Linked DNA regions of Homo sapiens: region 2 is linked to region 1. Evidence: fine-mapped expression QTL. Tissue or cell type: whole blood. Region 1 holds a variant in brackets; the other region holds the start of a gene. All regions are shown on one strand. Distances are between the middles of the regions.

Region 1 (5,203 bases):
ATGGCTGACTACAGGAGCTATCTGGAAATGCCACAAAGCAATTTTTTCCCCTAGAAATACATGTGCACAGAAAGAACCATCCAGCTTGGCGTCAAGGTTTACTATGCTTTCCACAGTTCCTGCTGTCTGGAAGGGCCATAAAGCATGGTCTCACTAGTTGAGACTAACTGGGAGTATCTGAATTGTTAAAAAATCAAAATTACCGGAACTTTAAAAAAAAAAATGCAGTTTTGTTGCTTTAAGGAAAGACAGTTCCAACACACTTTTGTGAAGACATCCTGCCAGAACGATTGTAACGATTGTAACGAATGGAAAGCAGCTCTGATGATCTCATTCATTGGCTGAATGTGAACAGCCCCTCCCCATCCTCCTACTCTGCCTTTTTCCCCCACCTAACATTTGTCAGGAACTGAAATAGTTATTGCCTCATCCACCAGAATGTAAGCTCCCGTGAGGGCATGAGATTTACTCCTCTCTTCCCTAAACCCTGAAATATTCTTTTTACTTTATTAATTTGAATATTTAAACTACAGGAAGGGGCCAAGTGCAGTGGCTCATGCCTGTCATCCCAGCACTTTGGGAGGCTGAGGCAGGTGGATCACCTGAGGTCAAGAGTTCGAGACCAGCCTGGCCCTCACGGTGAAACCCTGTCTCTATTAAAAATACAAAAATTAGCTGAGCATAGTGCCATGTGCCTGTAGTCCCAGCTACTCAGGAGGCTGAGGCAGGAGAATCACTTCAACCAGGGAGGCAGAGGTTGCAGTGAGCCGAAATTGTGCCACTACACTCCAACCTGGGTGACAGAGTAAGACTCTGTCAAAAAAAAAAAAAAAATTTACTGAAAGGGACTTTAGATAGCTACACCAATCAGATTCTAATTCTTGGGAAATCAACTTGAGAAATTCAGAGAAAATTAGGCAGTTAGTGGCAGAAGATAAGGCTGAAGAGATATGCAGGTTGGAATTATGAATTAGAATTAAGTCAACTTAATTATATATATAGTTACTAAGTCTATTAATAGCAGGGGAATAAAAATAATAATAACCAGAGCAGTTAACATTTTCTGAACACCTGATCAGTGTTCGGAATGTGTTACCCAAGCAACCGTGAGGAAGGTATTATTATTAAGCCCATTTTACAGATGAGGATATACAGAGTGATTCATTTGTCCAAATCCACACAGCTAATGGGTGGCAAGGTGGAATTTGAACCTAGGTGAGCTAGATCCAGCATCCAGGCTGTTAACCTGGTCCCAAGAAAGAATCTTTGACTCTAGGCTGCTGCAGTTCTAAAGCAGAATAGGAAGCAACTCCCCTTCCTGAGGCCCTGATATAGCTCAGTTTCCATTCTTAGATTCTTGCGAGTTGTTTTCCATATGACTTCATAGTTATTTATCTTTTTAGTAACTTCCTTTTTCATCAAATAGCTTGAATTCTTACAACCAAAAGAACCTAGTTAGAACACCTTGATTTTATACTTCTCTTGAAGCCTGTTTTATGTAATCACACATCACCCAGAAAAAAAATATCCAACTCCAAAAATGTTCATGAACAATGTAGAGTTTACTGAGCAGTTCACAAGGAGAGTTACAATGAATCCCCCACAGCAACATTTCCTTTAAAATCCCTTCAATCAATATTATCTCTCACCAAAACCCTTGCTCTAACAGCTAGCTCATCCCTTTTTTCTATCTCTTTCTCCGCCCCTCATCCTCTATAAATCGTGTAGGAAAACAAAAGACACCCAAAAGAATCCACAGCAAAGCCAGGCACGGTGGCTCATGCCTGTAATCCCAGCACTTTGGGAGACTGAGGTAGGAGGATCACTTGAGCTCAGGAGTTCAAGACCAGCCTGGGCAACAAAGTGAGACCCCCTCTAAAAAAAAAAAAAAAAAAAAGAATCCACAGCAAAACAAAAACCCAGTATATATGATTATTCCTTAGGTGTACTGCATCAATCCAGCTCTTCACAGCTGGAGAAGCTAAAGCCCAGAGTATTTAGGAGACTCGCTCAGACTTCCCTTTCAGAAAGAAAATTCATTTTCCGATCTAGTATCCTTTCAGTCACACCATGCTGCTTAACAAGCATCTTACTCATCGATAATGCAAATGGAAACTGCAGAGTAATGCAAACAGGAACTTTTCAGGAAAACAGGCTCCAGATTCACGAGTGACTTGATGAGCCCAGGGCATGAACATCTCAAGCATCTGTCAGCAAACAGCTGCTTCAGAACACTTACTCTGGCCCTCTCTTCATCTGCTGCACATACCACTGAGGCACAAATGTTGGTCTTCTGATGACATCCTTTTGAGTTTTGGAAGCTATGTTTGTCTGAATCATCCCTTTGGACAGAAAAAAAAATAAAAGCAGTGAGAATCAAGATCAGCCCTAGAAAATGACTTCTTGTTATTTTGCAGAGGCTATTTACACGGCAAATATTCAAGACTGACCTGTATGTATACGAATAGAGAAAATCCTTTGGGATGAGAATTGCTCACAGTAAAAGACTTGTATCCTTCACTGCCATTAGTAGAAGGCTCAAAGCAAAGGAG[T/A]GAATGAATATTCAGGAATTAATCTCATCTTTAAATCCAAGTTGGATGGTAAAAGAGGAGAGCTGGGGCAGCCAAATAACAAGACACCATCCTTTCAAGCTTCCCTACACCAGACATCAGTGATTACGGGTTGGAATCTGGTAGCTGTCTTGAAGGGTTCTTTTCTACATCAAGTGTGAAATATCATTTTCAATTCATGCCGTAAACCTCAGTCCAAACTGTAACCAGAGTGAACCCTTCAGAAAGTAAGTCATAATACATTGCTAGTGAGAGTGTAAAATGAAACCACCACGTTGGAAAACAGTTTGGTGGTTTCTTATACAGTTAAATATGCACTCCTATGTGATTTAGCAATCCCATTTCTGGGTATTTACCCAAGAGAAATGAAAACCTGTATCCACACAAAGATGTGCACGTGAATGCTCACAGCAGCGTTATTATGATAACCAAAAAGGAGAAATAACCTAAGTGTCCATCAGCTGGTAAACAAATAAACTATGGAATAGCCTTACAATAACTTATTACTTATTCCTCAGTGATAAAAGAGGAACAACTACTATACATGCAACAACGCGGTTGAGTCTAAAAAACATTATTCCAGAGTGAAAGAAGTCAGCCACATGCAATGTGCCTACTGCAAGCGTTTATTAATATCAAATTCTAGAACAGGTAAAACAGGGACAGAAAGCAAATCAGCAATAGCCTGTGATGGGGATAAAGTGAGGTGTATGTGGTGTTGCTGGGGAAACTGATTGCAAAGAGACATAAGGAAACTTTCGGGATTGATGGAAATGTTCTATATCCTGCTTAGGGTGGTGGTTACACGCATTTGTCAATACTCATCCAACTGCACTCTTAAAATATGAAACAAACATAAACCACACACACACACACACACACACAAAGCAAATCAGATCATGCCACAACACTGCTCAAAATCTTCCCGGGACCTCCGCCTAATAAAATATCCAAGTTTCTATCACTGCTCTCATCTCTTACAGACCATCTACCTGTTCTGTGAAACTTCAAGCTGGTCTGTACCTTCCAGCCTTAGCCTTAGTTCTTCCTCCTCCTGGAGCGCCCTCCTTCCCACAGGCAGAGGCTGGTCTATAAAAGTAAGTGCTGTCCCACTGACTCCTCCATTTTCTGGCTGCTTCCTTGCACTGTTTCATTTTCTCCACCGTTTCATTTTCTCAGTAACTGTTACCACTTTCTGAAATGGCCTGACTTGTTTACTTGACCATTGTCTCTCACCACCCTTTTGAATACAGGCTCGAAGAGCAACTTCATCACTGTATCCCAGCACCCACAACAGGAGCCAGTACACAGCTGGCACTCAGATACTAGCTTAATGCATGACAGAATACACTTGCAGTCTAGTTCAGGAATAGAAAAAGGCGGACGGGTGCAGTGGCTCACGCCTGTAATCCCAACACTTTGGGAGGCTGAGGCAGGTGGATCACGAGGTCAGGAGTTTGAGACCATCCTGGCTAACACAGTGAAACCCCATCTCTACTAAAAATACAAAAAATTAACCAGGTGTGGTAGCACACACCTGTAGTCCCAGCTACTTGGGAGGCTGAGGCAAGATAATTGCTTGAACCTGGGAGGCAGAGGTTGCAGTGAGCCGAGATTGCGCCTTTGCACTCCAGCCTGGTGACAAAGCGAGACTCTGTCTCAAAAAAAAAAAAAAAAAAAAAAAAGAAAGAAAGAAAGAAAAAGAAAAGAAAAGAAAAAGCCATCTGGAACACTAGGAACCCATAAATTGCTCTGAACTGGTTTCTATGAACCAAACAAACAGAAGTAGCTGGACAAATTGCTCTAGATTCAGGAACAAAGTCTATTGGCTCTCATCTCTCCACCACCCTTTTAAACCATAAAAACAATACAATACCACCTAAGAATTTTTTTAATTTAAGTCATTTTTAATTCTACCACCCAATAGAAGAGATTTTAATTTTTCTTTATTATCTTCCAGTCGGCCCACATGCATGCATTGCTGCAATTATCATGCACATTGATTTTTGTGTTTTTTTTAACTTTCCTATTTTAAATATAAACAAAATTTCAGAAACATAAATTTGGGGTTCTGGCTGAGCACTATGGCTCATGCCTGTAATCGAAGCATTTTGGGAGGTTGAGGTGGGAGGATCGCTTGAGCTCAGGAGTTTAAAATCAGCCTGGGCAACAAAGTGAGATCCCCATCTGTACAAAAAAATTTTTAAATTAGCTGGGCATGGTGGCATGAACCTATACTCCCAGTTAGTTGGGAGGCTGAGGTGACAGGATCGCTTGAGCCAGGGAGGTTGAGGCTGCAGTGAGCCGTGATGGCATCACCGCACTCTAGCCTGAGTGATGGCGTGGGACCCTGTCTCAAAAAAAAAAAAAAAAAAAAAAAGTGTTCTGCCTTTTTCATTTAACAACACCAAATTTTGCTCTTCCTATCTAGTTTTCATAATCAAAATCTTTAACAAGTGCCAGATACGCCACTGAAATTTAATACCCTAATTTATTTAGTCACCACTGCACTGGTACAGACTGGTCCTACTTTTAGTACTATAGGTACTGGTTTTGGTCTAGTATTCTTCGGTCACACCATGCTGCTTAACAAGCACCTTACTTTATGCCTATAGCTTTTCTCCCCCCTTCTT
Region 2 (5,131 bases), 49 kb after region 1:
CTGACAACCATTTTAAACCCTGGGACACAAGTCAAAGTGTTTAAGAATGGGCCAAGTGTAAAAAGTACTGTATCGAGAAAAGTAATTGAGCAGAGCACATAGTGACAGAAAGGGTGGGAGGAAAGACTGGCCATTCATTAATTCAACAAGGCGTTCATTCAGTTCATTCAGAAATTAGATGGGAAGGCAGAATCCGCCAAGAAGGGAAAGAGACTTCACAAAAAGGACTTGGTGATGACAGATTGTGAGGAGGATTAAAACCCTGCCTGGGGGAAAAGATGAGTTTGACTCCATGGACAGGACACACGCGGGAGAGGAAGGGCTTGGGATCAAGGGAAAGGCCTGGGCAGCGAATGTGGACCTGGAAGCCATCTTTTTAGATGTGCAGCTGTCCTCGAGGGAGCAAGCTCTCTTAGGGAGAAACTGGGAAGAAAATCACTCAAGAGTCTTAACCCAAACCTTGCAGCGCATCTGCATTTAGACGAAAAAAAAAAAAGGCAAACGGAAACAACAGAAGCAGTGGCCCGAGACGTGAGCCACACTGCTTCAAAGGGATTTAAGAGAGTTGTCCCAAGGCAGGCGGTCAACTGCGCGCGCCACCGTAGAGAGACCACCCGGAGGGAAGGCCCGCGGCTGCTACAACTTCAGGAACCTGGAAAAGGGCCACCCCTGCTACGCGCCAGGCATCAGAAAAGCGGTGATGAGGGGCATGGGGGTGACCGGGAAGGGAGGGACAAGCAGAGAGACCTGCGGCTCGCTCCGGCGGAGACGGACCGGGGGCCCAGGGCGGCTGGGTTACTGGCTCCGCCACGTCTAGGGAAGGAGGTAGTAGGGAGGGAAAGACTCAAGATACCAAAGACGGGAGGCTCTTTCCTTCCTTCCCAAACCTGCCTACCGCTTCTCTAGGCCCTGGCTGGCTCCAGAGCACTTTATTCTTCTGATTCGTGCGGGCGGGCGGGGAAAGGGGTGGAGGTTGAGCCTGGTCTCCTCCAGGCACTAGCATTTTAGCCATTCTCGAGAAAATGTCTGGAGGTGCCGGAAGGAAGGGAACTGCAAAGGTAGAAGCGCGGGCCCTGCAGAGGCTCCCAGAGGGGAGCAGAGAAGGGAGTGGCTGGAGGCGGAGGCTGTCAGGTGCGGGGTCCCGGCGAAGCCGTGCCCCTCCCAGAACATTGCCCGCCTGGACAGTCCACCCCGACCACGGCTGCGGACAGCGCCCCTCCCTCCGGGTGCACTCACCGCTCGGACTGCGAATAGTTGCACCGGCCCAGCAAGTTGAGTTTGCAGAGATGCAGGTTATCGCAGGGTCTCTGGCAGTACTTGCGACGGCAGACCCGGGCTCGAGTGGTGGCCACCACCGATCGGGTGATCCCGGCCTCGCCGCCGGTCTCCAACACCACAAAGCGGTCGGGCCCGGCCACCTGCAGCACCTCACAGAGCTGCGGCTCAGACAGCGCGATCTCCTGGAGCAGCGCGTCCAGGGCCATGCGGCCCCCGTGGGCGCACAGGATTTTGGTGATGAAGCAGCACACCTCCGGGTCCGCCATGGCGCGCTGGCTGTGCTGGCTCTGCCGCGGCGCGGGACTCGGTTCCGCGGAAATCGGAAATCGAAACTTACAAGTGTCCAGGGGCGGGCGCGGGCGGTGCTACTGCTGGGCGCGCCCGGAGTCAGCGAGGGCGCGCTCTCCGTCGCCGTTAGCCCAGCCCAGCGATCCACTCTCGGCTCTCAGGTCAAGAGGCTAGATCTCACCGACCGGGTCCTAGTGGCAGGTTTACAGCCGGCCGCAAGGGCAACTGGGTGGAAAGAAAGAGAACGCGCGGGCAAATCTGCTGGTGACCGCCTGGGGTGGCCCCCTCTCGGTTCTAGGCTCGGCGAGGGTGAGGTTCTCCAGCCGGGCTCCGCGAGCCTTCTTTAGAAAGAAGAGAAACTAAAAGCGATCTTGGGGCTCTGGCCGGTGTTTTATAAGCCAGCCGACTGAGGCGTGTGACGCAAGTCCTGAGAGCCCTGTTGAGGAGTGCGCACCCCACCCATTCCCGGAAAGAGCAGACCCTAGCGAGCGCTTCCTGCGAGCCGTGCGCTCTGCCTCTGTTGGTAGTGAATCTTCCCAGCAACTCCACATGGTAGATATTATTATCCTCACCCTGAACTTGAGGAAGTAACTTGCACGAACACGCACTGGCATCAAGCGGAGCCCAGATGCCACCGAGTTTCCCCAAATCGCGTCCCCAGGCCCCAGATCGTGGTACCCCAGGCCCCGATGTGCAAGTTTCTCCTCCACCACCGTGCCCTCTTAAAGAACAACGATTGCCACTCTCCCTCGTTTCTGCCTTCTCACGAACTTTTGGACAAACCACTTCTTGACATGGTCTTGCTTACCTAGAATCGCTAACTCGGTGCCCTGAACCACTGCTTGTACCTCAATCACGGTGGACATGCTAAGACATATCCCAAGATTTCAGATCGGTTCCTCCCCGTAGAGATTGGGACAAGAACTTTTCCACCGTGGGGACGTACTTTGACCCCCAGAGTTGACATAAAGATTGTTTTTAAGTGAAAACATTGAGCTACAGAAGATGTAGAAAGAAATCTTAATGAAACTTCCCTTATCTGACTAAAGCAAAACCTCCCGAAAACATGGTGCCATTAAAAGCCTCTCGGAGTATTCAGCTGCCAGGAAGACAGACTGTCCCATTACCATTAGCACCAAAAAACCCAATGGGCTGGGTGCTGTGGCTCAGCCCGTAATCCCAGCGCTTTAGGAAGCCGAGGCAGTGGGAGGATTGCTTGAACCCAGGAGTTCAAGACTAGCCTGGGCAACATAGTGAGCTCTCTTCAATAATAATAATAATAATAATAATAATAATAATAATAATAATAATAAAAACAACCCGGGCATGGTGGTGTGCAGCCGCAGTCCCAGCTACTCGGGAGCCTGAGGTGGGAGGATTGCTTGAGCACGGGAGGAGGCTGCAACGAGCCGGGATTGTGCCACTGCACTCCAGCCTGGGGGATAGCGCTGAGACTTTGTCTCAAAAACACAAAACAACCCAATCAAAACTTCCAAACTCTCCTACTGAAGCCCTAAAACTTTCCTTTTTGTTAAGTTGAGGTATATAAACCTTTACTTTTGAGTTTTCTGTTACTGGAAGCTCCTGCATGCATGTGTAAATAAACTTTGTCTTTTCTCCTATTTATCTGTCTAGTGCCAGTTAATTTTTAGGCCCCCAAAGACAGGACACAAGTTGAAGAGAAAAAAGGTTTTTTTTTCCAACATCTTCAAATAAAATAGATGGGTCATTTGATCAGATAAGAAATACATCTTTTTAAAAAATAATAGATTCTGGTTGCTAACTTAGAAATTCTTCAAAATGATTAATGAGAATTCTCCTCAGTTTTGTCATTCATGGTATATAAACCCTCTTTCAGGAATAGAGTACTTTGTTATGAAAACCAGCCAAACATGGGGGCCACATAGGATCATCTTAGGATGTCTAAGAGGGACATCTTGTTCCCTCTAGTTGCTGCTTCTATAGTTGTCTTTTAATCCACTTGGCCTTATTTGTGGTCTGACAGGTTCCCAGGGACCTTTTATTATCAAATCAACTAAGTTCTAGATGTTTATTGACTATCTTCTATGTGGTATTTACATTAGTTAGTAATGTAAGGACATGCAGAAGTTTAAAAAACAGTCCCTGCACTCAAGGAGCATGTATGCGAAGACATGAAAAAATGCATGGAAATATAAGCAAATTCATGGGTAAATGCCACAATGGGAATATAGAAGATGAGAGACTGAAGAGTCTAGTTTGGCTACAGTGGTTGGGAGTACAGACATAGAATCTCCTCCAATTTGAAGCCATGAAAAATGATTTAAGGGCCAGGTGCAGTGGCTTGTGCCTGTAATCCCAACACTTTGGGAGGCCAAGGCGGGAGGATCATGACCATCCTGGGCAACATACTGTGAGATCCACCTGGGCAACATAGCGAGACCTCATCTCCACTAAAAATAAAAATTAGCCAGACATAGTGGTATGTGCCTGTAGTCCCAACTACTTGGGAGGCTGCGGCGGGAGGATTTCTTGAGCCCGGGAGTTCAAGGTTGCAGTGAGCTACAATTGTGCCACTGCACTCCAGCAAAGGCAACAGAGGAAGATCCTTTTGGAAAGGGAAGAGAGGGAAAGGGAAAGGGAAACGGAAATGGAAAGTGACAGAGAAAGGGAAAGGGAAAGTGAAAATGAAAGAGAAAGGGAAATGGAAAGGGAAAGGGAGGGAAAGGAAAGAAAGGAAGGGAAAGGAAAGGAAGAGAAAGGAAAGGAAGGAAGGGAAAGGAAAGAAGGGAAAGGAAAGGGGAAAAGGAAGGAAAAGGAAAAAAAGGAAGGAAAAGGAAAAGGGGAAAAAAGAAGGGAAAGTGAAAGGAAAAAAGAAAGGGAAAGTGAAAGAGAAAGGTGATTTAAGGAGTTCTGGGAAGGGAAAAGGAGACATTTTGAAAAATTTTGAAATATGTGCCATCAGAGATTGGGTTCTCCAGGAAGGAGATCCTGACATGGAGTTAAGAGTGCAGAACTTTCTCTGCACTTTTTCTGGGGCATAATGCCAGAAAAAGTCAAAGGAAAAAGCATGATTGATCCATGGGGCCTATCAGACTTTTGTGCGGACCTAACAAAGTCTCTGCCAGCCCAATGAGGAGCTCTGGAGTAGGAGTCCAGCTTTGGACAGAAAAGGCTAGGCCCTTGTACTGCCTTGCTCAGTCACCGGTGGGGGCCACCAGAGAAGTGGATGACTTCAGCTCGAATGCTGGGGCAGATCTTGAAAGAGCTAAAGCTGGAGGATATTGGCTAAACATGCTCCTCAAAGCTGGGCTGCAAGCTTGACCTGAGTGCCACCCTGTGTCAGCTGTAGTCCACCCTTTGTACTACATGGCTTTCTTTATCCATTTGTATTTAGGGAACAGGCTTTTCAGGGTCACTCTTCCTACAAGGAAGCTTACCAGAGAGAAATTAGTGGAATGAACTATAGTCCTTGTCACTGCAGTTGGTCTCAAGGCCACAGCTGGTGGTCTGGTCCTCATCATATCCCTCTACCACTATCCATTCCAATCCCTCTCACCCTTGGCCACCACCTCAGCTGCTCTCA

The links. PIP is the estimated chance that this variant, and not a neighbour inherited with it, causes the effect.
Region 2: ZC3HAV1 starts here. The variant in region 1 is fine-mapped to the expression of ZC3HAV1 in whole blood (TOPMed, PIP above 0.99).

What each region holds. Positions count from the first base shown.
Region 1 is chr7:139,058,797-139,063,999 of GRCh38, forward strand. It overlaps ZC3HAV1 (zinc finger CCCH-type containing, antiviral 1), which reads right to left. Exons shown (of 13, transcript NM_020119.4): 9 at 2,240-2,342. Among named protein-coding and RNA genes, the nearest start is that of MIR10399, 17 kb to the left of the region's middle. The variant T/A (reference allele first, on the strand shown) is at 2,553.
Region 2 is chr7:139,107,788-139,112,918 of GRCh38, forward strand. It overlaps ZC3HAV1 (zinc finger CCCH-type containing, antiviral 1), which reads right to left and starts at 1,933. Exons shown (of 13, transcript NM_020119.4): 1 at 1,237-1,933. The coding sequence starts at 1,544. RefSeq lists enhancers at 832-961, 1,542-1,641, 1,586-2,089, 1,882-2,041.